2 separate regions of the Homo sapiens genome follow, and region 2 is linked to region 1. Evidence: fine-mapped expression QTL. A gene starts in region 1. The other region holds a variant in brackets. All regions are shown on one strand. Distances are from middle to middle.

Region 1 (15,487 bases):
TCCAACAAGACCTGGAGTCTCTGAGAACAATGATTGAGTGCAATTCATCAGTTAAATCCCCCTCAGTGCATGATTGAGTGCAATTCATCAGTTAAATCCCCCTCAGTGCTGAACGAGAGAAATGTAGCAATACATCTCCTGATGGCCTCCTCTTTGACCACACTGGCCTTGCCTGAATTATCCATCTCTTTTTCACTGCAGGCCCTTTGCCTTTGCTGTTCCTTTTACTGGAACACCTTTCCCCAGCTGTTCATCAGGCTCCATCCAGGTTTTAGCACAAATGTTACCTCCTGAAAGAGGCCTTTTCTGACCACACTCTTTAAAGTAGCCTCCCAGGCTGGGCACGGTAACTCACACCTGTAATCCCAGTGCTTTGGGAGGCCGAGGTGGGAGGATCACTTGAGCCCAAGAGTTCGAGACCAACCACCTGGGCAACATAGTGACACCCCCATCTCTACAAAAAATATTTTACTATTAGCCAGACATGGTGGGGTGCGCCTGTAGTCCCAGCTACTTGGATGAGGTGGGAGGATCACTCGAACCCAGGAGGTCGAGGTTGCAGTGAGCCCTGATCACCAGGCTGGAGTGAAGTGGTGTGATCACGGCTTACTGCAGCCTCGACCTCCTGGGCTCATGTGATCCTCCTGCCTCACTCTCCCAAGTAGCTAGGACTACAGGCATGTACTACCACACCTGGCTAATTTTTATTTTTTATTTTTTTTAGTAGAGACAGGGTCTCACTCCTTTTACATTTTAAGAAATGTTCTCTGACCCTAAAAGATTTTCTCCTACATTATTGTCCATTAATTTTTTATCATTTTTTCTCTTACCTGTGGTTTTTAAAATCATCTGGAGTCCACTTTGTGTATGACAATAGGTAGGGATTTCATTCTATGGCTCGGCAGATAGCAAACCACTGCCATGATTTTATATCCCATCACTCTATTTATTTTTTCTTTTATTTATCACAAACCATAATTTGGAATATAGTTATTTCTGTTTAACTGATTACAGCTGTCTTCTCCCATTAGGCTTGAGAGCAGGAACCATGTCTATCTTATTCCTCATTCAATCCCCAGCCCTAGCTGGGGTCCTAGTAGGAGCTCAAATAATATGTGTTGTGGGGAGGGAGGGAGGGAAAGGAAAGGGAAAAGGAGGGAGAGAGAGGGCAAGGGGCAGGGCAGATTCTCATCCCTCTGCACGGCCCAGTGCCCTAGCTATTCCTCCCCAAATGCCCCCCCAAGGCCCCCATCCCCAATCCTCCAGGCCTGGATGGTGCACAAGGGCAAGCATTTGGAGGGCACCAACAAAGAGGCCCCTCCACCTGGAAGAAACGATTCCACTCTGCCTTCAACAAGAGCGCCACCTTCTGGGCTGCAAGAGTGAGTGCAGCCAGCTGGACGCCTCCAAGTTCTTTTTTTTCTTTTGAGACGGAGTTTCGCTCTTGTCACCCAGGCTGGAGTGCAATGGCGAGATCTCGGCTCACTGCAACCTCCGCCACCCAGGTTCAAGCGATTCTCCTGCCTCAGCCTCCCAAGTAGCTGGGATTACAGGCGCCTGCCACCAAGCCCAGCTAATTATTTTATATTTTTAGTAGAGACAGGGTTTCACCATGTTGGCCAGGGGTCTCAAACTCCTGACCTCAGGTGATGCACCCACCTTGGCCTCCCAAAGTGCTGGGATTACAGGCATGAGCCACCATGCCCGGCCAACATCTCCAACTTCTACAAGACCACATTGTGTCTGCCGCTGTGGCCCAGGTACCATCCTGCCCCTGGAGGTAATGGCCAACGATGGCTGTCTGGCAACAAGGATCTCTTTGCTCATCTATAAAGTGGGTGGTGGACTCATTGAGCTTAAACTCATGTGCTGGTCAATTTAGGACGCCTAGACCACACAGTTTATCTCCCCACTAGAAAAGGAGGAAACTGGCTGGATGCAGTGGCTCACAACTGTAATCCCAGCAGTTTGGGAGTCGGAGACAGGTGGATCACCTGAGATCAAGAGTTTGAGGCCAGCTTGGCCAACATAGTGAAACTCCATCTCTACTAAAAATACAAAAAATTAGCCAGGAGTGGTGGCGGGTGCCTGTAATCCCTGCTACTCAAGAGGCTGAGGCGGGAGAATCACTTGAACCCAGGAGGTGGAGGTTGCAGTGAGCCGAGATCGCACCATTGCACTCCAGCCTGGGCAACAAGAGCAAAACTCCATCTCAAAAAAAAAAAAAAAAGAAAGAAAGAAAAGGAGGAAACTGAGGCCAAGAAACAGGTGGACCTTGCCTGAGGCCATACAATGAGCTGGGGTACTCATCTGGGATCGTCTAAATTGAGGGGGTTCCTCCTGGGGCCCAGGGAATAGCAGGCTGTCTCTTGCTTGATGCAGTTACCAGGGCCTGGGCGCCCCCTGAAGAGGTAGGCATGCCCTTTAGTCCGAAGGAAGCTCCTGGGAAGTGGCTGAGCCTGCCTGCAGGTCAGACCTGCTGAGTGTGTTCTTCCAGCCCCTGCAGCCTTGCCAGCTCAGTCACCTCTCAGCAAGTCACCCACTGGCCCCACCCTCTCTGGCTATGACCTCCAGCACCATCATTTACCTCATCCCTCCAGAGCACCAGCTCCAGCCCTGTCCCCATGCTCCCACCCGCTCCACCTTTTTCTACCTCTCCTGCAGCCCTCCCTCCATCTGCAGCACCACCAGGCCATTCCCTTCACCTCCACCATCTTCAGTTTCATTGCCCTGTCTGCAGCCACCCCATCTTCTCCACATTCATTCCTTTGTCCTCCTTGGGTCCATCACTCCACCCCCATGCACCCCATCGGGTCCAGCTCCATCACCTCCGGCTCCCTCACTGTTCCCATCAGCTCTGTCTCCCTCATTCTGTCTGTATCACCCCTATTATCTCCACCCCATCACCTTTCCGCCATCGTCGACAGCTCATTGCTCTGTGCTCATCACCCCCACCCCCGCATCAGCATCTGGCTCTGTCCCGCATACCTTTCATCTCCAGCTCCCTCACCTCCGCATTTACCCCCAGCACTTCTCTCCCTATCACAGTGACCCATCTCTGGCCCTAATACCTACAACATCTTCATCAACTTTCTCTTTACCTCCATGGGGGCGGGGGAGTTTGAGCTCTGAAACTTCAAAGTTCTTTTCTCAAAAGCCCAGTGCCATAATATTGACTTCTAATACATTGGACAGCCAGCCCTTTTACTCAGAAACACTGTCAACCCCAGCTGGCCTTCAGTCCGCCCAGACCTCTCTGCACTGGTGGGAACAGTCTGGGAATTCCTGAGGAGTCACAGGCCTCCTCTCCCACCCTCACAGCCTCTTCTCCCAATGCTCAGGATGGCTCCGGATTTGCCACAGAGGATGAGGACAAGGAGTGGCCCCACAGGCTGGCCCAGCAGGGTTCCTTACTACCACCCATCCTCCTCCAGGCCCTTTGGTTGACCACAGTAAGGACTGGGTCTCCTCACCCAGCCCTGCCTCCTCCCTGGCCTCCTCCTTATCTATGGGTCTGGGGTCAGGGTGAGATGGTGCCTGACTGCTTCCTCTCCTTCACCAGGGTGCCAGACATAGGACCTCAAAAACCTCTGGTGCCCAATGCCCTCCGATGACTTCAGCAACCTGGTAAGGAATCGAAATCCCCTCCCCTCCGACCAGTGTGCTGAACTGGGGACGGCCGCGGGGTGGGGCCAGCCCACCTCTCTCTCCCACCCAAAGCACCCAGCCCAGGCTCCCAATAATAGCCACAACAGTCAACATTTCCTGAGGGCTTAGTTTATGCCAGGCACCCTTCCAAGCTCCCCACAGCCCCCAGATGCTGCTATTATTCCCATTTTACATATGCCCAAACCAGGACACAGAGGTTAAGAACCTTGCCTGAGGTCACACAGCTGGTAACCCTGGGAAAGCTCCTAAGTGGCAGTGATAGACTAGAATCCGAGGGCCTGGCTGCAGAGCCCACAACCCTAACCACTGAGCAGGATTGCTGGTTTCTCATGAGACGCTGCTAGGTTGTTGTTATTGTCGCTGTTATGGTTATTTCTACCTGCATCAAAATCTTTGCTGGGAGGAAGCTCCTAGAATCCCAGAAGATTTGCTGGGAGGGTCATGCCCTCACTGTACAGATGGCCCCAGCTTTTAACCGCAGAGCTCGACTATCAGTTCGTTTATACTGGAAGCTATTGTTTACTACTATTATTACTAGAATTCTTATCATCACTGATAGGGAGAGAGCACCCAAAATTTCCGAGGTAGAGGCTGGGACGACCTCTGGGTCCGGCAGAGTTTGAAGGGGAGGGTAAGAAGGCGAGGGGAGCTAGCGCCGCCCACGTCCAGCCCGTGCACCCTCTCTCGCCCCACAGCCTGCTGGCTGCACGTGTGGCTCTTCTCTCCGCAGCGCTGGTGCGCGAAGCCACCGGGCGCACAGCCCAGCGCTGTCGTCTGAGTCCGCGGGCGGCCGCCGAGCGCCTGCTGGGGCCGCCACCTCACGTTGCAGCAGGTTCGCTTCCCCGACCCATTGCCCAGCGCCCACGTGTTGCAGGGCCTGCCGCCTCACCTGGAGCGCGGTGTGCAGCTCTGGGTGGCTCCGGAGGGCGTGTTCACCAAGCGCCTGTGCCAGGGCCTGTACTGGCGCAGCCCAACAAGGTGGAGCGCAGGCGCACCTGCCACCTGCTGAACACACGCGGCTTCCTCCAGGCGGTAGGACGGCTGGAGGAGTGGAACAGAGTGGCGTGGGAACGGGGGCATAAGGACGCGGTGGGCAAAGGAACATGAACAGAGGAGAGTGGGCACATTAAATGCAGGCCCAGGGGGATGGGCCTAAGGGTGCTGGGCATGAAGTGGACATTGACACAAAGAATATGGCACAAAAGCACCAGGGATGGGAAAGAATACAGGCACCAGGAGGGCTGGGGGCACATATACGGATACAGGCGTATATGGGGTGCTGGCATGGAGAAGGCTTGAGGCGTTGGGTGTGCAGCATAAGAATAGGGCTTCGGTACATGTGTTGGCTTAGGGCATAAGGTGGATGTGAGGTGCACCAAGCACGAGATAGGTATAGGTGAGTGGCAGTGGGCATGGGTTGGGCATAAAGGCATGGGGTGGGCATAGGGGCCAAGGAAGAGACATAAGACCTGGAAGTGGGCACAGATGTGGGACATGGGACAGGCATAGGAACGTGGAAGTGGGCCTAGGGTACAGGCACACAATGGGATGTGGGCTTACAGGACTTGGGCATGGGAAATGAGCACAAGATGGGCACCAGTGGGTTGCCTAGTTCTTGCCCAGTCCCTATAGTCTCAGTGTCGTATAATTGTGTGCCCACCTGCAGGATGGTCACCGGACCCAAAGTACCAGATCTGTCTGTGCTTCGGTGAGGAGGACCCGGGCCCCACACAGCACCCCAAGGAGCAGCTCATCATGGCGGACGTGAGTCACTCCTTCCACTCCAGCCAAGAAGCACGCCCTCCAGTCCCCTCCAGACAGCCCTTCCCACACTCCCTCCAGTCCCAGCTCTGCCTCTGACACTTCTAGCACCCTCGGGTCTGTAGGACCCTACCTGGAAAATGGGGGTAGGGATGGGGCTGTAACTAGGGCTGTGACTTCCCATGGGAACATCCGAGGCGGGAAATGGAGAGGGTCTGCTCATCGCCCCACCCGCCCCCGCAGGTGCAGGTGCAGCTTCGGCCTGGGAGCTCGTCCTGCACTCTAAGTGCCTCAACCGAGCGCCCAGATGGGTCCTCAACCCCTGGCAACCCCGATGGCATCACTCACCTTCAATGCAGCTGCCTCCATCCTAAGCGAGCCGCTTCCTCTTCTTGTACCCGCTGAAGGCAGCCCCCAACAGGGGGGCTCCCTACTCCCACCCAACCCTGCCCACACTAAGCCCATAGACTTGGGGCCTCCCCCGGCACATCACCCAGGTCTGCCGGACGGCAGAGGTGGATCGCGGCCTTCCACTCCTCTGTCACGGGGCCCCGGAACTCGAGAGTAGGCCACACCGCCCCCCAGCTGGGCATGGGGCTTCGGCAGGAAACTGAACTTGATCTTGAGGCCCCAGAAAGGCAGCAACTGGAGCAGAAGCAAGACTTCATCTCTTGCTGACAGCCCAATTTGTCAATAGCGCTTTCCTCAGAGCCAGCCTTAACCTGCTGTTGAGTCCATTAAAACGTTTGCTTAAAGTTTTTACCAATAATTAGATCATCAGGGTTGTTTAGTGTGGGATCAAGCCATAACAAAACTGCCTAGCCTCTCAGGGGCCTAGAATTTACAGAACCTTCCTCCTCCCTGCAGCTAGTCTCTCTTCTTTATTCTGGGGGCTGGGAAGGATCCCAAAACAGGGAACTTGGCCGAACCCTGGGCTTTGGATGCTAACCACTGAAGTACCAGCACCTGTAGGATGCTGTCTTTGAAGAAACTGAGGCGGACCTCCAAATGCAGCCCTAAGGCAGAGGTCAACGTGGAAGACCAGCCCTTCTCCAAGCCCCACTGGTCTTTGCAAGCTGTACGTTGTAGGCAATCTGAGAACTGGAAAGGGGGACTACAACCAGAAAGTTGGTTACCCTGCCATGGGAATAAAGTAGCTGTTTTCCACCCCACATATCAGGCCTTTTATTCTTTTCTGAGTTCTGATTTTATTTATAGGAATCCTCTTACAGATGCCAATATTGTAAGTCTCTTTTAATGATACATTAATAAGCCACCTTCATGGGGGGAAAACTGTGATTCGATAAAGGACAGAAATCAATCAATTGCTGTTTGTTTAGTCATTTAGCAGACATTTCTTGAACACCTACTCTGTTCCAGGCCTCTGTTCCAGTGTCCAGTGTGTGACTCTGGGGGTACAGCAAAACAGCATGCTCTTTACTCTCTTGGAGTTCACATTCTGTTTTCTAGTGGGGACCCAGCGACTCTCCGCTACCCCTGCCCCTCACTGAAGAGGCAGTATTTAGGAATTACAGAATCCTAGGCTCATATCCAGCTTTGTCACTCACTAGATGTGGGACATCAGGGAATTTACTTACCTTCTCTGAGCCTCAGAGCCCTCATCTATTCAAAAGAAGCAATGAAGCCCTCCAGAGCAGGGTTGGTTGAAGAAGTAAGTGTAGGGTTGGGGAGGTGAGCTGGCCTGGTACAGAGTGGGTGAGCAGTGACTTGGGAGTGGGAGAGCAGAGAGGATGCCGTCCCCTCCTCCAGAAGGCCTGACTGTTCTGGGCCTGACTCTCTGGACCTCCCGACCCCAGGCTGCAGCTGGGGTAGCCTCAGTTCAGAGTGACAATCCGCAGCCATGTTCATATCCCTACTCCATACTAGGCTCTTGATGAGGGTGCTGCATTCTGTGTAAGGGGAACCTGTTGCCTCCCCACCATGGCCTGGACAGCTGAGGAGTCACCAGCTCCATGTTAGAGATGGGGAAACTGAGGCTCAGCCAAGGTCTTGAGGTGCCTCTTGGGAGGGAGAATGTCTCTCCCCAGATAGCTGTCCTTCCCACACCAGTCACTAGGGGGCGACAGGGATGCAGCAGAACTGAATTTCATGGGCTCTCCTTACCATCCTAGGTGCCCCTCCCTGCAGACACCCCAGAGCTAGGAGGATGGGGTAGGAGTGGTGTGGCCCCAAGGCCTCTGCACCGCAGGAGAAGGCAGTAGACCACAGGCCTGGGAGAAGAGGGAAAAGCAGGAGTAGAGGTAGGGATTAGAGAAGCCCCTGGGGCTTCTCTCACTCTAGGGGGACTGGGCTCAGGCCCTGCCTCTCTCTCCTCTCTCTCTCTCTCTCTCTCTCTCTCTCTCTCTATTCATTCCTTTCACTCCTTGTGTTTGCACCTGTGTCTCTCAGTATCTCCTTTCTCTCTGGCTTTGTGGATTTCCTTGTTTCTGCCTGCTCAGTGATTCTCACTTTCTCCGTATACTACGTGTGTGTGTGTGTGTGTGTGTGTGTGTGTCTGTGTCTGTGTCTCTGTGTTTCTGTGTGTGTATGTCTCTGTGTGTCTGTGTATGTGCTTGTGTGTGTGTCTGTGTGTATGCCTATGTGTCTGTGTGTGTCTGTCTCTGTGTATATGTGTGTGTGTGCTTATGTCTGTGTGTGTGTGTCTGTGTGTGTGTCTGTGTCTGTGTGTCTCTGTGTGTCTGTACGTGTATGTCTGTGTGTCTCTGTGTGTCTGTACGTGTATGTCTGTGTGTCTCTCTGTGAGTGTCTGAGAGGCTCTGGGTGTCTCTGTCCGTTGTGTCTGCCTCTGTCTTATCTTTGTCTCTCCCTCTTTCTCCCTCTTGTGATGTCTCTACCTCTCTCTGTCTCTATCTCTTTTTTCCCTGTCTCTGTTTCATATGTTTCTGCCTCTGTCTCATTTTGTTTTTGTCTCTGTCCCGCTCAGTTTCACATCCTGTCCCTCCCCAGCCACCACCACCCAGCACACGTGGGCTGAGGGTCTCAGTCCCTTCCTTCCCAACTCCTCATCCCTGGCAGCTGCTCGGCTTCCCACTACTGGCCTCTCCTGCCCGCCTCTTTTGGGCCTTGTGGGAGTGGGGCGAGGGAGGAGGGGAGGATGGCTCAGCAGACCCACCCCTTTTTGCCTTTCCAGGCTGGGAGGCTGGGCCAGTGGACCTTTTAACCAGCCTGGGCAGGCTATTCCGGACGCCAGCCCTGGAAGCTGAGCCTGACCCAGCAGGTCCCAGCAGCCTGGCAGCCCGGCCAGCATGCAGCAGCAGCCTCTGCCCGGGCCTGGCGCCCCCACAACTGAGCCAACCAAGCCTCCCTACAGCTACATCGCCCTTATTGCTATGGCCATCCAGAGCTCACCGGGGCAGCGGGCCACCCTCAGTGGCATCTACCGCTACATCATGGGCCGATTCGCCTTCTACCGCCACAACCGGCCCGGCTGGCAGAACAGCATCCGCCACAACCTGTCACTCAACGAGTGCTTTGTCAAGGTGCCCCGCGATGACCGCAAGCCAGGCAAGGGCAGCTACTGGACGCTGGACCCTGACTGCCACGACATGTTTGAGCACGGCAGCTTCCTACGCCGCCGCCGCCGCTTCACCCGGCAGACAGGTGCTGAGGGCACCCGGGGCCCCGCCAAGGCACGCCGTGGACCCCTCAGGGCGACCAGCCAGGACCCAGGAGTCCCCAACGCCACGACCGGCAGGCAGTGCTCATTCCCACCAGAGCTGCCAGATCCCAAGGGCCTAAGCTTTGGGGGTCTGGTGGGGGCCATGCCAGCCAGTATGTGCCCAGCAACCACTGATGGCAGGCCTCGGCCACCCATGGAGCCCAAAGAGATTTCCACGCCCAAGCCTGCATGCCCAGGGGAGCTCCCCGTGGCCACCTCATCTTCCTCATGCCCAGCGTTTGGCTTTCCTGCCGGCTTCTCAGAGGCTGAGAGTTTTAATAAGGCCCCTACGCCCGTCTTGTCCCCGGAATCAGGCATCGGGAGCAGCTACCAGTGTCGGCTGCAGGCACTGAATTTTTGCATGGGGGCTGACCCAGGCCTTGAGCACCTCTTGGCCTCAGCAGCCCCCTCCCCTGCACCACCCACCCCTCCAGGCTCACTCCGGGCCCCACTGCCCCTGCCAACTGACCACAAGGAACCCTGGGTTGCAGGTGGCTTCCCTGTCCAGGGAGGCTCCGGCTACCCATTGGGGCTGACCCCCTGCCTATACCGGACGCCAGGAATGTTCTTCTTTGAGTAAAGGCAGCCTCACCTCGGGCAGTCCCTGCAGGTCCCTCACCCTCCGGGCTGAGCCTGGCTCTAGGACCTGAAGAACTCTCGAAGGACCCAGCCCTGGTGAGCCAAGGACAACCACACAGAAAGCCAGGATTGAAGCGGTGCTCAGCCAGGCCCCTGGGGCCTCCGGACAAACTTGGGGGTGAGGGGAAGCAGGGCCTCTTGGGATTTACTCTGTGGCTCTCAGGGCCAATAAAGCCATGTGATGATGAGGGTCAGCTTGCCTGATGGCTGGGGGCTGAGGGCCAGGGTGCCTGCTTGTATGTGGGGGTGGCTGTGGCTGTGGGGTTGTGCAGCGGGGGCAGAGACCCTTGGTGGGAATATCTCACATGAGGTTTTCTCCTGCTGGGGACTTTCTCAGGGAGTTTCCTAGAAAGGGAGAGGAAGGGGAGGTAGGGAATGGGGAGCAGGGAGAGGAGGATACAGGCAAGGGAGAGACTGGGCAGGGGCAAGACTGGGCTGGCCTGAGGGACTGATTCTCCAGTCTCAGATGCTGGGACTTAGCCCCCGTAGGTGCAGTCATCATAACCCTGACAATTTGTGACACTGATCCTGTCCCGGGCTTGTATGTATCATCTCACCTGTGTGATTTGGAAAGTTGGCCCCGTTTACAGTGGTGGAAACAGGCTCGCCAGCTCCAACTCCAGAGGGCAAATGGGTGGCAGAGGGTAAATCAAAACCACATCTGTGTGGCTCTACCCTCCAGCCTCTGACCTGCAGCTTGAGTGAGGACATAAGGGTGGAGAAGAGGGTCAGGGCAGAGCTGGTGGTGGCCCCCAGAGGTGGGAGGGCTTTGCTGCAATCCTGGAAGGCCAGGGCTAGAAAGGCACCCTTTACCCATTGTGCAGACAGGGCACCTAGGGTTCAAAAGGCAGCACCTACCCCCTGTTTGGACTTCCCACATTAATGTGGGAGCTTCCCTGAGCCCCCAGCTCCATGAGGTCCTCTGGTGACTCTTTAAGACGGCATTTCTTGGGGCCAGCAGCATGGGCTGTGACTGTCCTAGGTACCATTCAGAAGTGACTGAGCCCTGACCTTTGACCTTCTCTGACTATCCCTTCGCGAGGAAGCAGGAGAAATGGGGATATTCTTGGTCCTCGTTAGAGGAACAGAGAAGGAATCTGAAACATCGCTGTCCTCACAGACCCCAGCACTGGAGGAGCAGAGGCGAATGGCTTCCTCCCCAGAGCCTCAGTCCTCCTATCTGGATCATGGGCATAGGGAGAGGAGGGAGGGATGCTGGGGCACCCCCATTCTGGTTTTTGGCATGTGGTCTAGAGTGTCTTATGTCCCACGAGGTTACACTCAGGGGGCTGGAGACCCCTTCTTGGGCAGGCAGCCCTCTCCCCTCCAGAGGCCCTCCCTTGCCCAGGCAGCCCCGAGGACTCCAGCCTTTGCTGCTCCCTCCTCCCCCGACAGGTCCCCTGGGGCCTGGGAGGAAGCGAGCCCGGCTGGACAGCCCGAACTGTCTGGTTCCCACAGTCTCAGAGCTGGGGTGGAGGAGGACCTGCAGGGTGAGAGGGGCTGGGAAAACGCCTGGCCAGCTGTGGGGCCCCTCCCCACCATGCCTGCTGAACCCCAGCCTGGAACCCATCAAACAATGGGGAGGAGGAGCAAGGGTCTGTGCAGCCTCCTATGGGCAGCTTCATGGGGCAGAGGGAAGAGGAAAGGCCCTCTGTGTGCAGGGCATGGTGAGGAGGGGGAAGGAGGCTCTTGTGTGAGTCTGTACCATGGCGTGTGCCTGTGTGGATCAGTGTGTCTCAGGCTGCGTGTGTGTATATGACAGAGAAAGAGAGAGATGCAGAAAGACAGACCCTGCAGAGGCAGACAGACAGATTCAAAGGGGTGAGAGTTCTTTCTCAGTTGGGTCAGGGAAGGAGGCCTCTGCTGGGCGCTGTTCCCGTTGCACATTCCTGTGGAGCCCTGGTGACCCCAGTCCCTTCCCAGCCTGGGTTCTGAGCTACTAGGAGGATGGGAAGCCGGCTGGGCTGGGGGAGCCCAGGCCTCTGCCGCTGTACTCCCCAGCATCCCCCTGAATCAAGGAAGTTTAGCTCTGCACTAGGGTGGGGACTTGTGGAGAAGGAGGCTGAGTCTCCTGCTCATCCCTTGCCCTGGGGGAATGTGCGAAAGGGTTGCCCACATGCAGGCTCAGAGCCCCCTCTGCACATCTCCCTCTGGCCTCCGACATAGTCATGAAGAGAAGACAGGCCCCCTCAGCCCCAACCCCCCAAGCAGGACCCTGGACTCAGCACATGCCTTGGACTCACTGTATGAGCCTGGACCAGTGCCCACCTCTCTGCGTTTCACTCCCTTTGCCCGGTGGTTGTGGGGAAGGGCAGCCTGACTCACGGTCTGAGTCCCAGGAACGGATCTGACCTGGAGGAGGTCCCTTCTCTGGAGGTGCTGGGCAAGGAGACACCATGATCTCATGCACCCTTGGCTAGCTGCCCAGCCCAGGGACCCCACCCACGGGGCCTCCTGCCTTCACATTCTTTCCATGACCAACATTCACCTCCGGCTCCCACCTGACCACCCTCATCTGGACAGGGGTTGCGGGGACAGTGAATGCCTCTGTCGACCCAGATAGAGCCCCTTGGCACAGATGGAGAGACCAAGGCCAGAGAAGAGAGGTAACATGCCCAGGGTCACATGGCAAGGCAGGAGCAGAGCCGCTTCTCAGCCCATCCATGGCACCCCCTCTGATGCCTTAATGTAGCTCTGGAGGGGAGGGATGGGGCCATCTCGTTGGACCAAGGACCTCCTCATAGGGAGCGTGTCCATCTCTAGGAGGGAATCCCAGTCCCCATTCCTCCTCTTTAGCAGGTGAGAGCAAAAAAGGTTATTGAGACCCTTACAGAGTTAGACGAATCAAATCCTAAAATGGCAGAATCAGAATCTGAAATGAATATTTCAGAAACTTCCAGAGTTTTTAATCATAGCAACTCAGATTCCTGGAATATCAGAGCCGGAAGGGCATCTCCTGCCCGATTTCTGAATCCTCTCTACATTAAAATGGTCGACATCACATGGGGTTCCAGGAACTGGGAGCCCACTGCCTTTCCAGGTGGCCGGCCCCTTCCCACAAAAGTGTGGTAGCTCTGAAAGACCATTAGGAAGCTTCACCTGCTGGGCCTCGGCCTTTGTTCTCCCAAGAGAGGAAAGGACTCCTGGCCCCTGGGAAGGCCACCCTCACCCACCCACAGGGCTGGCCTTAGCCAGCCCCTCCTCCCCGATGCTTTATCTCCAGCCTGCTCCCTGCCCACCCCCTTCCTTCCCTGGTTTATGGCATTCCATGGCCCAGAGTTAGGCACTCCTGCCCACACCCCAAACAGTGCCTTGGCCGAGGGGAAGGAGACCCTCTCCCTTGGAGGGCAGGGCCCTGCAAGGCTGCCACAGTGATGAGAAAAAGCCGGGAGGTTGTATCGGCCAGCCTGGCATGCCGCCTGCTGGGAGAGTATGCAATCCAGGAATCCAGGCCTCAGCCAAAACATCCCTTCCACACCCAGACTTCCATCCACCCATGGACCAGGCGCCACGTCCTAACTGTGTGACCTTGGGCAAGTTGCTTCCCCTTTCTGGGTTCCCCCCATCTGTAAAATGTGGACCCTAACAGTACCTACCCCCATGATGTTATTGTGAGGATTACATGAGTTAATACTGGCAAAGTGCTTAGAACAGGGTCTGGCACATGGCAGCTACAATATCAGTATTTGTTGGCCGGGTGCGGCGGCTCACACCTGTAATCCCAGCACTTTGGGAGGCCAAGGCAGGAGGATCACTTGAGGTCATGAGTTTAACACAAGCCTGGCCAATAGGGTAAAACCCTGTCTCTACAAAAAATACAAAAATTAGCCGGGTGTGGTGGCACATGCCTGTAGTCTCAGCTACTCGAGAGGCTGAGGCAGGAGGATCGCTTGAACCTGGGAGGCAGAGGTTGCTGTGAGTTGAGATCATGCCACTGCACTCCAGCCTGAGTGACAGAGTGAGACTCTGTCTCAAAAAAAAAAATAAAATAAAATAAGTGTTTGTTAAGTACAATAAATAGGTATTTGGGTACTGGACATGTCTCCCTTAACCTGATTTATGCCCCAGAAGAGTGTCTAGCTGCTGTGGAGGCAGGAGGACAGGATTTAGGGGGAGGAAGGACTGTTACACAGACAAGGCTTTTGACTCAGTTCCTGGCATCTTCACTTCCTTGCTGTGTGACCTTGAGCAAGTGGATTCACCTCTCTGAGTCTCAGTTTCCTCATCTGTAAAATGGGAGCAATGATTCCAGTCCCCAGGACTGGTATGTGGAAAGCCTTGTCCTGCACACTACCTGTACAATTCAGTCAACAGGAATGAAATTAGAATTAATAAAACAACTCCGTTGGAGGACCTCATGCCCTCAGCGTAGTCCTCTCCATCTCTCCCTTCACACAGGGCAAAACCCACATCTTCACAGGTCCAGAGGTGCCTAATCTCTTGTTCCCACACTTCTGGTACTAGGTGGTGACTCAGGGAGGCAGCTGGTGGGGCAGAAGGAAACGGTTCCATGGCTAAAAACAGGCCACTGTCAGCCAGAAGCCAGCCTGGTGTCCCGGGAAAGGCCAGGGCTGCCTCCTCTTGACCACAGCCCTCAGGGCCAGTTTTGAGGTTGCCCTGAGCATACAAACAAGAGAGGGCTGACCCTCCCACTCCCTTAGGACACTTGCCTCCCCGTGAGTTTCTTTTCCATCTCTAGGCCTTTGCAGCAGCTGTTCCCTTCGCCCCCACTGGCTGCCTCTCTACATCCACCACCTACATCACATCACCTTCTCTGAGAAGTCTTCCTGCACTTCCTTATCTAATTGGATGCCCCCAGATTATTCTCCCTCTGCATCCCATTTATGTTGCTGACATAGCATCTGCTGCAATGTAGAATCACGCATGTGCACATGTACTCATGTTTTATTGTGTCTCTGCCTTAGAATGTAAACTTCAGGGGCCAAGGGTTGGGTCTGCCTTATGCGTTTTGTCATCTTCCCTAACTCGATGACTAGCACATAGTAGTCCCTCCATGAAGGTTTAGGAGTGGATGGATGGAGTCATGGTCACCATTCATTCATTTGCCATGAATTAAATCTCAAGGCTGGGCACGGTGGCTCACGCCTATAATCCCAGCACTTTGGGAGGCCAAGGCTGGTGGATTACCTGAGGTCAGGAGTTCGAGACCAGCCTGGCCAACATAGTGAAACCCCGTCTCTACTAAAAACACAAAAAATTAGCTGGGCATGGTGACGGGCGCCTGTAATCCCAGCTACTCGGGAGGCTGAAGCAGGAGAACCGCTTGAACCCAGGAGGCAGAGTTGCAGTGAGCTGAGATTACGCCACTGCACTCCAGCCTGGGCGATGGAGCAAGACTATGTCTCAAAAAAAAAAAAAAATTCTCAAAGACCTCCCCAACAAGGCTCCCTGTTTCGTTAATAGGCAAGGGCCACTGTGGTCTGGCCCCAGCTCCTCCTTCCTTCCCCCTCACTCACTCCAAGCAGCCTGTACACTGGCTCTGCCTTATCTTCCGTGAATGTCCACAGGCTTCACTCCCTCATATCCTCCAGTTTCTGTTCAAATATCCTCAGAAAAGCCCTGCCTGGCCACCACATTCCCCATTTCCCCCACCACTAACACATTCTAAATTCATTATTGCCATTCAGTGTGTCTCCCCCACTGGCATGAAGCTTCACCAGGCCAGGAATTTTTGTCTATTCATTGCTTGTCTCCAGCACCTAGGGCAGTGTCTGGAAC
Region 2 (15,487 bases), 87 kb after region 1:
TTGAGACCAGCCTGGCCAACATGGCAAAACCCTATCTCTACTAAAAATACAAAAATTAGCCGGGTGTGGTGGCAGGTGCCTATAATCCCAGCTACTCAGGAGGCTGAGGCAGGAGAATTGCTTGAACACGGTGGGGCAGAGGTTGCAGTGAGCCAAGATCATGCCACTTCACTCCAGCCTGGGCAAAAGAGCGAAACACTCCGTCTCAAAAAAAAAAAAAAAAAAAAAGTAACATAAAGGTGTCCATAAACACAGTATAGACACATAATAGATGTTCTGTCCAGTAACTATCCTTTGAACATTATTATCATAACCACCACTTTGAGATTCCAAAGTCTTACCTCTGAGGCTGGGCTGGAGTTTTTCTTGATATGGCTGCCTCAACTTCCAGGGAAGAACAAGCATTTGACGGAATGGATTGTTCCACAAGATTTTCTTTTTCTGCCTCTTTGTAGTAAGTGTTGTCAACTGCGGAAGACCAAAAGCTAGTCAGCACTCAAAGGCCAAGGAAAATAATTGGAGATGAGACACACACACACACACACACACACACACACACACACACACACCCTGTCTAAGCCACAGAAACCTTAGTTCCAGTTAAATCTTATACAGAAGACCAGTTTATAAAAGCTACTTTGGTTGAAACAGAAATGATGTATCCAGGGCTTGCCTATTTGCCAGCCTAAGGTACTACCTTTAAAAAAAGCATCCCAAACACAATCTCATGACATTTCAGGACACTGGTAAAGATAAAATTCTGAAAGCTTCCATAAAGAAGAAAAAAAATCACTTACAAAGTAAGGAAAATTAGATAAGCACTGAATTTTTCATCAGCAATACATAAAAATAGAAGATAAAGGAACAATGTCTTTAGAGTAGTGATAAAAAATAATTTGCAATCTATAATGCTGTATTAAGATAAACTTTCAATTGTATATAAAAGTGAAACAATGCCATTTTCAAATATGTGAGAACTCAAAGTTTTTCTCTCCTGCACTAATTTAAGAAAGTTTCCTGAGGATGCACTCCCACATAATGAAGGAGTATATCCAGAAGAAAGTTATAAGGTCCAGGAAACAAGGCAGCAAAGATAGTAAAAATAATAATGCTCTCCCAAAAAAGTAGTAATAACTTCCAAGGATCATTGTCCAATATGAAGCAAGATAAAGTGTGGCAGAAATTTAAGAAATTGATAAAGTTTAAAGAAAAGCAAATCCACTGATCTCCTGATGTCAGAATCATCTTTATGTGGCTCAGGGGTTGTGACAATACAACCAAAGATAGCCAAAGAGTACCAAGAAGGGATGCAACTGCATCACAGTTATTGATCTGGCATTGAACAATATTTATATAATCATAACATTGTAAATACTGCTGATATAATCATACTATCAGGCATTATGAATGTAACCACAGCACAAGTTAAAATAGTGAGTTAAAACAGCTACTGGGAAGACGGAGGCAGGAAGATCACTTGAGCCCAGGATTTTGAGACCAGCTTGGGCAACACAGTGAGATCCCACCTGTAAAACAAAATATAAAAACAAACAACAACAACAACAACAAAACCAATATGAGTTTGAGAAAAAGGACAGGGGGTAGGGATGGGAAGAGAAAGGGGTTATTTTAACATAAACTCTAAGTATTGTTAGCCATGTTACCATGGCCATGTTTTATTTTGATAAACGTTTTTTTTTTTTTTTTTTGCTTTTCAATATTATATAAATAGAGATGGGGGTCTCAGTATATTGCCCAGGCTGGTCTCAAACTCCTGGCCTCAATCAATCCTCTCATTTTGGCCTCCCAAAGTACTGGGATTACAGGCATGAACTACAAGCCCAGCCTTGATAAACATTTTTAACGAAATAGAAAAAAAGTGTTATGGGAACACTGAGAAAGTTAGCCAGACATGGTGGAATGTGCCTGTAGTCCCAGTTACTCAGGAGGCTGAGGCAAGAGGATCACTTGAGCCCAGGAGGTCAAGGCTGCAGGGAGCTGTGATCATGCCACTGCTCTATAGATGGGGTGACACACTGAGACCCTGTCTGCAAAAAAAAAAACAAAAACAAAAAAACAAAACAGAATAAGAAACAAGTAAAGGCTTCATGGAAGAAACAGCACTTAATCACATAGCATATGAACTGACTCCTGATAAAGGAATTAAACTGCAACAAGATGACAGGGAAGAAAAGATAGGCCATGAAAACATAGTTTAGGCATTATTCATTTCAGAGAACAATCATTTGGTTCATCTCCTAAAGAAATATTTTTGGGGCAGAGAGACTCACACGCACACACAAAATAATAGCATAGCATGTCAAGGCTAAAATAGATGCATTTATTCCAATTAAAATGCAGCAACAATAATATTAAATAATAAAGCAAGACCCAATTATATGCTGTCTACAAAAAAATGCACTTTAAATATAGACATACCATGCTAAAACCAATCAAAAGAAAACTAGAGTGGCTATATTAATATCAGGCAAAGTAGGTTTCAGAGCACAGAATTTCAATGGGGATAAAGAAGATCATTTCAAACTGTTAAAGTGGGGCCAGGCACAGTGGCTCAACCTGTAATCCCAGAACTTTGGAAGGCTGAGGTGGGTGGAGCACTTGAGCCCAGGAGTTCAAAACCAGCCTAGGCAACATGGCAAAATTCTGTCTCTACAAAAAATACAAAAACTAGCTAGGCATGGTAGTGGCATCTGTGGTCCCAGCTACTCAAGAGGCTGAGGTAAGAGGATCACCTGTGCCCAGGAGGTAGAGGCTGCAGTGAGGCGTGATTGCTCCACTGCAGTCCAGCCTGGGTGACAGAGTGAGACCCTGTCTCAAAAATATATACATATACATGTATGTGTACATGTATGTACACATACATGTATATGTACATATATACACACATACATGTATATTAGATGTATGTACATATATATATGCTTGTGTGTATATATATGTGTGTATGTGTGTGTGTATATATATGTATATAATTTTTTGTTTTTGAGATGGAGTCTTGCTCTATCGCCCAGGCTGGAGTACAGTGGCATGATCTTGGCTCACTGCAGCCTCCGCCTCCCAGGTTTCAGCGATTCTCCTACCTCAGCCTCCCGAGTAGCTGGGACTACAGGTGCGCACCACCACACCCGGCTAATTTTTGTATTTTTCAGTAGAGACAGGGTTTCACCATATTGGCCAGGCTGGTCTCGAACTCCTGACCTTGTGATCCGCCCACCTCAGCCTCCCAAAGTGCTGGGATTACAGGCATGAGGTATCACGTCCAGCCAAAAAAAAAAAAAAAATTAAATTTAAATTAAATTAAATTTAAATTAAATTAAAGTGGCCAATTCATCAACGTGACATAACAATCCTAAACATTTATGCATCTAATAGTAGCTTCAAACTATATGAAGCAAAAATTATAAAGATAAAGAGACAAATCCATAATTACAGTCTGAGATTTCACTACCTCTCTCTCTAATTGATGGAACAAATGGAAAGAAAAATTAGTAAGAATACAACAGCCATAAATAATGTATAAGCAGGACAGGCGCAGTAGCTCACGCCTGTAATCCCAGCACTTTCAGAGGCCGAGGCAGGTAGATCACCTGAGGTCAGGAGTTCGAGACCAGCCTGGCCAAAATGGTGAAACTCCATCTCTATTAAAAATACAAAAATTATCTAGGGGTGGTGGCAGATGCCTGTAATCCCAGCTACTCCAGAGGCTGAGGCAGGAGAATCACTTGAACCCGGGGGGCGGAGGTTGCAGTAAGCCAAGATCGCACCACTGCACTCCAGCCTGGGCAACAAGAGTGAGACTCTGTCTCAAGAAAAAAAACCTAAAATTCACATGGAACCACAAAAGACCCCATATAGCCAAACCAATCCTATGCAAAGAGAACAAAGCTGAAGGCATCAAATTACCAGCCTTCAAAATACATTACAAAGCTATAGTAACCATAACAGCATGGTACTGGCATAAAAACAGACACACAGACAAATGGAATAGGATAGAGAACCCAGGAAAAAATCCACGTATTTATAGCCAACTGATTTTTGACAACAGCACCAAGAACATTCCTTGGTGGAGGGACAGTCTTTTCAATAAATGGTGCTAGCTTTGGGAGGCTGAAGTGGTAGGATTGTTTAAGCCCAGGAATTCTGAGACAAGCCTAGGCAATAGAGTAAGACCTCATCTCTAAAATAAAATTTAAATTTGAAAAATCAAAAAATGGTGCTGATCAAACTAGATATTTAAATGCAGAAAAATGAAACTAGACATCTATTTCTTACCATATACAAAAATCAACTCAAAATGGATTAAAGACTAATATGTAAGACCTTAAACTATGAAACAACTAAAAACATAGGGGAGGCCGAGGGCGGTGGTTCATGACTCTAATCCCAGCACTTTGGGAGGCCGAGGTGGGAGGATCACTTGAAGTCAGGAGTTCAAGACCAGCCTGACCGACATCACGAAACCCCATCTCTACTAAAAATACAAAAATTAGCTGGGTGTGGTGGTGCGCGCCTGTAGTCACAACTACTTGGGAGGTTGGGGCAGGAGGATCACTTGAACCCGGGAGGCGGAGGTTGCAGTGAGCCGAGATCGTACTACTGCACTCCAGCCTGGGCAACAGAGTGAGACTCTGTCTCAAAAATAAATAAATAAAGTAATAAAATAAAAACATAGGTGAAATACTTTAGGACACGGTTCTGGGCAAAGATCCTATGAACATGACCTCAAAAGTATAGGCAACAAAAGCAAAAGTAGACAAATGGGATTATATTAAATTTAAAACTTTCTGCACAGCAGAGGAAACAATCAACAGAGTGAAGAGACAACTAAAGAATGGGAGAAAATACGTGCTAACTATTCATTCAAGAAGGGACTAATATCCAGAATACACAAGGAACTCAAATAACTCAACAGCCGGACAAATGAGCTGAACAGACATCTCTCAAAAGAACACATACAAATGGCAAACAGGTATGTGAAAAAATGCTCAACATCACTAATCATCAGGGAAATGCAAATTAAAAATCACAATGAGATATCCTTTCATCCCAGTTAGAATGGACACTATGAAAAATATTAAAAATTTCTCTGCATCCCTGAGGATGCAGAGAAAGGAGAACTCTTATATATTGTTAGTAGTAAAGTCAATTAGTACAGCTATTATGGAAAACAGTATGGAGGCTCCTCAAAAAATTAAAAATATAATTACCATATGATCCAGCAATCCCCCTACTGGGTATATATCCAAAAAGAAGGAAATCAGTACATCGAAGAGATATCTATGTGCACTCCTATGTTTATTACAGCACTATTCACAATAGTCAAGATATGGAATCAACTGAAGTATCCATCAACAGATGAACAGATAAAATGTGGCATATATATATACAATGGAATACTATTTAGCCATAAAAAAGAATGAAATTCTGTCATTCATGGCAACATGGATGAACCTGAAGGACATTATGTTAAGTGAAGTAAGTCAGGCATAGAAAGATAAATATTGACCGGGTGCAGTGGCTCACGCCTGTAATCCCAGCACTTTGGGAGGCCGAGGTGGGCGGATCACAAGGTCAGGAGTTTGAGACCAGCCTGGCCAATATGGTGAAACCCTGTCTCTACTAAAAATACAAAAATTAGCCGGGCATGCTGGTGGGCGCCTGTAATCCCAGCTACTTGGGCAGCTGAGGCAGGAGAATCACTTGAACCCAGGTGGTGGAGGTTACAGTGAGCCGAGACTATACCACTGCACTCCTGCCTGGACAACAGGGTGAGACGCCAGTCTCAAAAAAAAAAAAAAAAAAAAATTAATTGAAGGAGGGGTGACAGGAGGGAGGTGAGAGTAGTCATATGGTGTGATGGAGACCAGTTTCAGATTTACCCACATAATACTTTTCAAATGTTCTAAACTGATAGGATGATGGTTGCACAACTCTGTGAATATACTTAAAAACACTGAAATGTTTATCTTAAGTGAATCATATGATGTGTGAGTTAAATCTAAATACAGCTGTTTTTTTCAAAAGAATCAATTTCAAGAAGGATTTTATGACCTCTTAAAGAATGCTTCTTATGTTCTAACCAAACAGACAATATTCTGCAGATCCAGTACCCACCAGTTTAAATGTCAATCATCTTTTACACTTGATCTTAGCCAAAAGGCCGAGAAGCGATCCATCATCTTTTAAAATCAGATACATAACTCAAAGAATTCTTGTACAATGGCAAGCAGTACAGTCTTCTTTCTTGCTGTTTTATTTCCCACCCAGACCCAGGTTAGGTTACATTAAATCTTGTCACAAAAAGATAACAGTTACGTATCTGGCAATAAAATTCTATGTTAGCCCCCGGGAACAGTAGCTCACACCTATAATCCCAGCACTTTGGGAAGCCCCTGAGGCAGGAAGATCACTTGAAGCCCGGAGGTCAAGACCAGCTTGGCTAGCAAAGACTCCTCTACTAAAATTTTTTAAAAATCAGTCAGGCATGGTGTTGAGCACCTGTAGTCCCAGTTACTAAGAGCTCAGGAGTTTGAGGCTGCAGTGAGCTATGACTGTGCCACTGTACTCCACCAGCCTGGGTGACAGAACCAGACCCCATCTTAAAGAAAAAAAAAAAAAAATTCTATGTTAGCTTAAGCTCCAAGAGATTTTTTTTTAAGTGTAGCACATCATTAGTTTTACATTTATCATGAAATGAATTAGCCCATTTCACCAATAATAAACAAAGAGATAGAGCATTTAGGTAATTTTCCCAGAACCTCAGGCTTCTAAAACACTGTCCCACCATTCTATCAAGGAGCTTTTTTCTAAGATGTTTTCTTACCTGGTTTCAAAGGTGTGACAATAGCTTGCTGAAGATTAGCCTTTCTCAAAGGAGTTTTGCCCTGAAAAAGCCCTCCAGTTCCATTCTTCCCCAGTAACTTATTCTCCAAATTGGCCTTCTCCTCTGTGAAAAGGGAAGATCATCATTGTC[T/C]GATCAGCAAGGAAGCAAAACAAATCACTATCACGCATTTAAAATGCAAACTAAAGCTCCCTACCAGTACACTTCCAACTCATGTGGCAAGTACAAGCAAAGTTCTAGCAATCAAAAGAAAAAGTACACATTACACATCCGAGATAGACTATAAGAACAATCACTAAAAACTGGCAACATTGAACAATGTATTATAAAAAAGGAAAAGTACAGATTCTGCATTGTGAATAACTCCTTATCTTTGTTTGGTACACATTTAGGGTCATACAAATATGAACTGGCTTTATCTACTCCCTAAATATATCATGTTCCTCTTAAAGAAAACTGTAACCAGCCGGGAGCGATGGCTCACACCTGTAATCCCAGCACTTTGGGAGGCCGAGGCGGGTGGGTCATGAGGTCAGGAGATCGAGACTGTCTTGGCCAACATGGTGAAACCCCGTCTCTACTAAAATACAAAAAATTAGCCAGGCGTGGTGGCACATGCCTTTAATCCCAGCTACTTGAGAAGCTGAGGCAGGGGAATCGCTTGAACCTGGAAGGTGGAATTTGCAGTAAGCTGAGACCGCACCACTGCACTACAGCCTGGCGACAGAGCAAGACTCCATCTCAAAAAAAAAAAAAAAAAAAAAACGAAAGAAAACTGTAACCATCAAAAACTGTAGGGCTTACAAGAGATACTGTATAGTCTTACAGAGTTTCCTCCTCAGTGGGGTGGTGGGAGGAATAAGGGGTGTGTGAGGGTAGAGCAGAGCTAGGTTCTCTCAAGAAATTTTATCTTAGATTCTACTGTGCCCAGAAGTCAGTACAAAGCAGTGAAGGGTCTGTTCTACCAACAGCCTACTGATAGTTTCAGGAATGCAGTGAGACACAGCAATAACTACCCTGTGCATGTACATTCTGATTGCAACTGTGTAGAAAGATGTGACTATTTATTTGGGAAAGAAATTGGAAAGTAATATATTAAAACTGAGGTAGTTTTGTTAGCCAAAAGAACTCTGGCAAAAACAAAAAGAAAAAAAAATAAAAATGTTTTAAAACTAAGGTAGTTTTGGAAAAATAGTGGGGTCATTTTTTTTCTTCCAAATTGTATTTAACAGTATTCTTAGGCTAATCTTTTCTTTTCTTTTTTATTTTAAAGAAAAGCTTAGAAAAAGAAATCCTCAGACAGCCCAGCCATTTCCTTACAGTTCCAGTGAAGCAAGGGCATGGGGAAGATCCCCGCAGGACAGCTGGCCCTTGTATTTATTTACCCTTCCTCCCACACCACTTCCAACAGACGACTCCTCTCAGGATCCCCACTAGATGCCATTAAAGTCCTTTTCCAAAAAATGGCACCTGTCAACACATTTGGACAGTGCACTATACGGATAAGTACAGCTGCAATGGACTCACTTCTGTTCCCCACCACATATTCATAGTGATTTCTCCCGATAAGGAGGATGGAGACATGAGAGAAAGAATCAAAGGGGCCTCAACAACTAGTCTCAGATATTATTTCAAAGTAATGTAAAAATGTAACCACATTCTTACTTACCATTGGCCAAGCAATACTGTTTCTGGGAATGGGTTCTTAGTAGCATAATCCTTCCATTTAAAAATGAATTGAGGGCCAGGCGCAGTGGCTCACGCCTGTAATCCCAGCACTTTGGGAGGCTGAGGTGGGTGGATCACCTGAGGTCAGGGGTTCAAGACTAGCCTGGCCAACATGGCAAAACACTGTCTCTACTAAAAATACAAAAATTAGTTAGGCATGCTGGTGGGCGCCTGTAATCCCAGCTACTTGGGCGGCTGAGGCAGAACCGCTTGAACAAGAGTGGCGGAGGTTACAGTGAGCTGAGATTGTACCACTGCACTCCAGCCTGGGCAACAGAGCGAGACTACAGCCTCAAAAAAAAAAAAAAAAAAAATGAATTGAGGGAGGGGTGGCAGGAGGGAGGTGAGGGTAATTATAAAAGATCTTGACTGTGATGGTAGACACATAAACCAACACAGGTGATAAAACCACAGAGAACTTAATACACATACAAGTAAAACTGGAGAAATCTGAGTAAAACTGGTAGATTGTATGAATGTCAATATCCTAGCTGTGATATAATCTATCCCTAATGATAGTAGACAAAGTTTTTATGTGGCTGCCATCACTACAGACATATTTGAGCATGGAGTTTTGTTGAACACTGGTTCATCTGAACTTTCCCATAGGTCCCTAAAGCTTAAATCTGCCATTCTGAACTACAAAACAACATATGCTTTGTACTTACAATCCATTCCCCAAATACTGGGCATTTCAATTATTCCCATAATATCATGGATGACAGAATGTCTTGGTGCAGAAAGAAGTTGATATTTTAGTTCTTTTCTTGCAACCCCTTCTATTATTGAAAGGTCTTCAGCACAAAGCAAGCCACTAATCCTTAAAATAGCCAGAGAAAGCAGGCACTTACCAAACCATGAATCTATGTTTTGAGTATCTCCTTCATCATCCAAGGATGAAAAATTGATGAAATCCGAGGGGGCATCATAGGAATAAGAGCTTTTAACTTGTGACATTGTCTCCCACTTAACGCAGAAGAGCAGGTTTTTCCCAGTATTTGTACCACTTTTCTCAGCAGGTCACCTTCTGAGGAAAGAAATGGTTGCACATAAATCTAAGTAAATTCCCATCATTACTTTGGTTTTACTACCACGTTTGTAATTTTGCAAACCACCTAGAATTTACTGAAAATAGCCTTACTTTGTCCAATCAACCTAAACATTAGTTTTTCAGGTAACTTAAAGATACTCCTTGAGGTAGATATGTTTGGAATTAGAAAGAAGTGGGCCAGACACAGTGGCTCACGTCTGTAATCCCAGCATTTTGGGAGGAGGGAGGACCACATGAGACCAGGAGTCCAAGTCCAGCCTACAAAACATAGACAGACCCTGTCTCTAAATAAATTAAAATTATCTCTAAGTATAACAGTTGACCCTGTCTCTAAAAAGATAAAAATTATCTGTAAGTAGTTGACCCTATCTCTAAAAAAATAAAAATTATCTTTAAGTAATCAGCAAATATAAAGAAAAACCAAAAAGAAAAAATTGAAATTAAAAATAAATTTTAGGCCAGGAGCAGTGGCTCACGCCTGTAATCCCAGCACTTCGAGAGGCTGAGGCGGGTGGATCACCTGAGGTCAGGAGTTCAAGATCAGCCCGACCAACATGGCAAAACCTCTTCTGTACTTAAAAAATACAAAAAATTAGCTGGGCATGGTGGCAGGCGCCTGTAATTCTAGCTACTCGGGAGGGTGAGGCAGGAGAATCGCTTGAACCTGGGAGGTGAAAGTTGCAGTGAGTCGAGATCGCGCCATTGCATTCCAGCCTGGGCAAGAAGAGCAAAACTCTGTCTCAAAAAAAATAATAATAAATAAAAATAAAATAAATAAATAAATTTTCTAAATGTTTTTTAAAAGAGGCAAAGTTTGATAAGTATCTACACTGTGCTAGGTGTTTTACATTCACCATGTCATTATTTTCCCTCAATTTACCATTTTCTCATTTCTAGCCTCCTCTAGCCCAATTTATTCTCTCTCTGCCCTGAATAACCCAATTTCTAAAATACACCACTAATTTTTATGCCTACCAACCAAAATCTTATCCATCATTCAAAGTCCAGGTCAAATCTCTATGAACTCTTTCCCAATTTCCACCTATCATACAAAATTGTTGCCTCTCCAAAGCCAATTGTGCTTTGTTTATATCTCCACTGTAACACTTATCATCCAATTTTATATTAACTATGTAAATGTCTCTCCCAGTAGACTCGAAGTTCCTAAAAACAAAGATAGATTTTACTCACTTGTGTATACCTCATCCATCCATCCATCCATCCAACCATCAAGGTGCTTAACACAGTGCATTATACATAGTAAGAGTTCAACACAGTTTTGTCAAATATAAGTTGTCTTTTCTTAGAAATATTCTCAAAAAATACTATTTCTGAGTATAAAGACGACAACTTTGAAATACACGTAAGAGTCACAACATGCAGCATAGGAACAGAAGCAAGGATAAGGGAACAAGTTAAATAGGCCCCTCCCTACTCCTGCGTACGAAGTTTTGCACTCTATCTTGTGGAAACCTGTGAAGGTTTAAAGTCAGCTCCTACTCAAGCCTAATCTAGTTAATAAAATAGCTGAAAGTAATCTGATAAATAGCCTAAAGGCCACACTCAGTGGCCAATAATTTGCCAATGAAACCCAATGAGCCATTTGTCTTTTTTTTTTTTTTGAGACGGAGTCTCACTCTGTCCCCCAGGCTGGAGTGCAGTGGCATGATCCCAGCTCACCACAACCTCTGCCTTCCGGGTTCAAGCAATTCTCCTGCCTCAGTCTCTAGTAGCTGGAATTACAGGCGCCCACAGCCACACCTTGCTAATTTTTTGTTTTCAGTAGAGACGGGATTTCACCATGTTGGCCAGGCTGGTCTCAAACTCCTGACCTCAAGTGATCCACCCACCTCGGCCTCCCAAGTGTGAGCCACCGCGCCCGGCCAGCCATTTGTTTTTATCCAGGGAACGACATGTACTTAAAAGTATCTGTATCTTAGAAGGGAGGTAGATGCCAGTAATCACTTGAATAAATGTTTATTTAAATTAATACCTTTCTAGTGTGGCGCAGTGGCTCATGCCTGTAATCCCAGCACTTTGAGAGGCCAGGGCGGATGGATCACCTGAGGTCAGGAGTTTGAGACCAGCCTGGCCAACATGGTGAAACCCCATCTCTACTAAAAATACAAAAAAGCGGCCGGGCACGGTGGCTCACGCCTGTAATCCCAGCACTTTGGGAGGCCAAGGCGGGTGGATCACGAGGTCAGGAGATCAAAACCATCATGGCTAAAATGGTGAAACCCTGTCTCTACTAAAAATACAAAAAATTAGCCAGGCGCAGTGGTGGGCACCTGTAATCCCAGCTACTCAGGAGGCTGAGGCATAAGAATCCCTTGAACGCAGGCAGCGGAGGTTGCAGTGAGCCAAGATCACGCCACTCTACTCCAGCCTGGGTGACAAGAGCGAGACTCCGGCTCAAAAATAAATAAATAAATAAACCTATAATGCTACACTATTCCAGATGTCTTCTCCCTCATATATATACAAACTATTATTTTTTTAAATGAATCATTGACAGTTTGAATCTGCTTCACATATTATGAATATTCTTGTATGTCAATAAATATAGACATATCAATTAATGGCTGTATCTGTTCCATAATTACTTATCCTTGATTTTCAGCCTTTTTCCAATATTTTCACTTTAAAGATACTGCTAAAGCATCATCCTTGTAGCTAAATTTCTGTACACATCCATAATTCTTCCCTTAAGATAAATCTTAAGAGGTGGAACTGCTGGGTCAAAAGCTCTTGACACATACTGTGAAAATGTCCCTCAGAAGAAAAAAACACCCACTTACATTACCAGGAGTGTGCCAGTTCCCCAAACTCTCCCCAACTCTGGGCACTGCAGCACTCATTTTCTCTAAACTATACCACATAAGCTATCCACTGAGATGAATCATGAGATTAGTTACTCCCAACCTACATAGCCGTTCAGTGGTTTGGCCAGCATTTCACAGCTTCTCTCAGTGGACTAGGGCAATTCAAAATGGACTAGGGGCTGAGAGTGGTGGCTCATGCCTGTAATCCCAGCACTTTGGGAGGACGCGGCGGGAGGATCACTTGAGGTCAGGAATTCGAGAACAGCCTGGCCAACATGGTGAAACTCCATCTCTACTGAAAATACAAAAATTAGCCTGGGGTGGTGGCTGCACCTGTAGTTCCAGCTACTCGGTGAGAATCACTTCAACCCGGGAGGCTGCAGTGAGCCAAGACCGCACCACTGCACTCCAGCCTGGGAGACAGAGCGAGACTCTGTCTCAAAAAATAAAATAAATAAAAATAATGTACTTCTGGTCCTTATAGTGTCTCAGAAACATCTGTTATTGTTGTTGTTTTTGTTTTGTTTTGTTTGAGATGGTGTCTTGCTCTGTCGCCCAGGCTGGAGTGCAGTGGCATGATCTTGGTTCACTGCAACCTCCACCTCCTGGGTTCAAGCGATTCTCTTCCCTCAGCCTCCCAAGTAGCTGGGGTTACAAGCGTGCGCCACCACGCCTGGCTAATTTTTCTATTTTTAGTAGAGATGGGGTTTCACCATGTTGGCCAGGCTGGTCTTGAACTCCTGACCTCAGGTGATCTGCCTGCCTCGGCCACCCAAAGTGCTGGGATTACAGGCATGAGCAACCGCACCCGGCCAGAAACATCTGTTATAACAAATATTTCATTTATACAGTGACATCAATCTAGACCCCAGAGAACATCATCTTCCCATGGTCTCTCCTATGCTCACTGCAGCCAGAATTCCACAAGTATCTTTATAACAATGCTCTAATTGAGGTACTTAGTGTAGAAACATGATATTTTAGAATTGGGAGGAAACTTTGATTAACACCTAACCTTTGCAGTCTATAAGATATTAACTTAAAGCAAAAAGGGGTTCTCCAAGATCACACAACAAAAATCCTAAGGATCATGGTAAAAACAGTTACCAGAGGTGTTCATTACATGCCAGGTGCCATGATATACTAAATATGTATTCTTTCTGATATGCAAAACAATCCTGTAAAGCAGCAATTATTCCCAACCTAGAAGCTGAAGATCAGAAAGATTAAATGACTTGCCCAGTATCACACAGTTACGTAAAAACAGAGCCAGATCTGGACCTGAGGCTCGTGACTTCAGCACAATGTTCTTTCTACATCCTTCTGCCCTCTTACCTTGTGAATTAAAGAAGGGTGTTCATGAAGTTAAGCTATTTGCATAGAAAAGAATACTGTATTTATTTCCAAGTAAATCCATTCTCCATAGTCTTCTGTCTGGAATAGGGGTTCTTTGGTATCCCCAGTCTAAATTTTCCTCTCTCCTCCATTTCTACTTTCATTATTAAGCTTAACTCAATAAGCTTTTTGTCAGTGGTTCACAATAGTGTGTACTTGCTAGGGGCCATAAGCTGTGTGCCCTTGAATGTTTCTCAGTAACATTCAAGGATGACACTCTATATCTTCACACAAAAAGTAGATCTAAGCGGCCAGGCTCAGTGGCTCGCACCTGTAACCTCAGCACTTTGGGAGGCCGAGACAGGTGGATCACAGGGTGAGGAGATTGAGACCATCCTGGCTAACATGGTGAAACCCCGTCTCTACTAAAAATACAAAAAGAATTAGCCAGGCATGGTGGCGGTCACCTATAGTCCTAGCTACTCAGGAGGCTAAGGCAGGAGAATGGTGTGAACCCGGGAGGCAGAGCTTGCAGTGAGCCGAGATCACGCCACCGCATCCAGCCTGGGCAACAGTGCGAGACTCCGTCTCAAAAAAAAAGAAAAAAAAGTAGATGTAGTCCTGAACACAAAGGAACTTAACATCTACATAGACGCTAAGGTCCTATCATACACAATAAATAAGACAGTTTGTTTAAATTATACAGTATGAACTCTAAGTATAGAGAATTAGAAATTAACATGGCTGAAGTCAAGGTACGATTAAATATTTTTCATTGACCATGACCAAAACAGTAGCAAGTACATTAAAATGGAAGTTACCTCCTGATAGCCACTTTCCAAGCTTGGGGTAGCCATGGGACAGTTCTGGCCAATGAGAACTAAGTAAGAATCTGCTGAGGGATTCCTAGGAAAAAATTTTCTTTCCTGAAAACAGCTATAGCCCTTATTCCTGCCCTTTCCCTTTATCCTTCTTCTTGCCTTGAAGGCAAGCTGGAGCTATGGCAGTCATCTGGTATACATGAGTAGATGGCCAAGAGAACAATAAACATAGGGCTTAACATCAATGAGCTAATGACTATTAAAGATCAAATATCAGCTACTATATACCTCTAGACTTCTGGTGTTTTTTACAATTTTCCATGACCTGCTAAAAAGACTTCTTATACTAAAAAAAAATAGGCCAGGCACGGTAGCTCACACCTGTAATCCCAACACTTTGGAAGGCCAAGGCAGGCGGATCACCTGAGGTCAGGAGTTCGAGACCAGCCTCACCAACATGGTGAAACCCTGTCTCTAATAAAAATATAAAAATTAGCCAGGTGTGGTGGCAGGTGCCTGTAATCCCAGCTACTCGGGAGGCTGAGGCAGGAGAATCACTTGAACCCAGGAGGCGAAGGTTGCAGTGAGCTGAGATTGCGCCATTGCACTCCAGCCTGGGTGACAAGAGTGAGACTTCATCTCAGAAAATAATAATAATTATTGTATAAACCATTATAGCCACATTTTCTGTCACCTGTAGTCAAAAGCAATTCCAACTAACAGAAGTCCAGAATGCCCTCTCTGGCATTTACCACATGTATATGACAATAGGCAAGTCACTAATTCTCTGCCTACCTTCTTACCATAATCAAATAAGAAGCTACTTCAAGTGCTATGAAATACACTATTGTAAGGTATTATCACT

Alleles and levels. Positions count from the first base shown, and alleles are read on the strand shown. Sizes are in standard deviations (SD) of each study's normalised expression.
With allele T in place of C in region 2, the expression in esophagus muscle of the gene that starts at base 8,635 in region 1 is lower (small effect, 0.23 SD a copy in GTEx).

What was found. PIP is the estimated chance that this variant, and not a neighbour inherited with it, causes the effect.
Region 2: its variant is the best candidate, but not a certain one, in a credible set for the expression of FOXS1 in esophagus muscle (GTEx, PIP 0.83).

Annotation. Positions count from the first base shown.
Region 1 is chr20:31,838,752-31,854,238 of GRCh38, reverse strand. FOXS1 (forkhead box S1) reads left to right here and starts at 8,635. Exons shown (of 1, transcript NM_004118.4): 1 at 8,635-9,936. The coding sequence starts at 8,697. The coding sequence ends at 9,689. It also overlaps a transcript of DUSP15 not described here. RefSeq lists an enhancer at 8,694-9,251.
Region 2 is chr20:31,751,537-31,767,023 of GRCh38, reverse strand. It overlaps TPX2 (TPX2 microtubule nucleation factor), which reads right to left. Exons shown (of 18, transcript NM_012112.5): 3 at 9,442-9,617; 4 at 6,845-6,967; 5 at 342-468. The coding sequence starts at 9,547. Among named protein-coding and RNA genes, the nearest start is that of TPX2, 20 kb to the right of the region's middle. The variant T/C (reference allele first, on the strand shown) is at 6,995.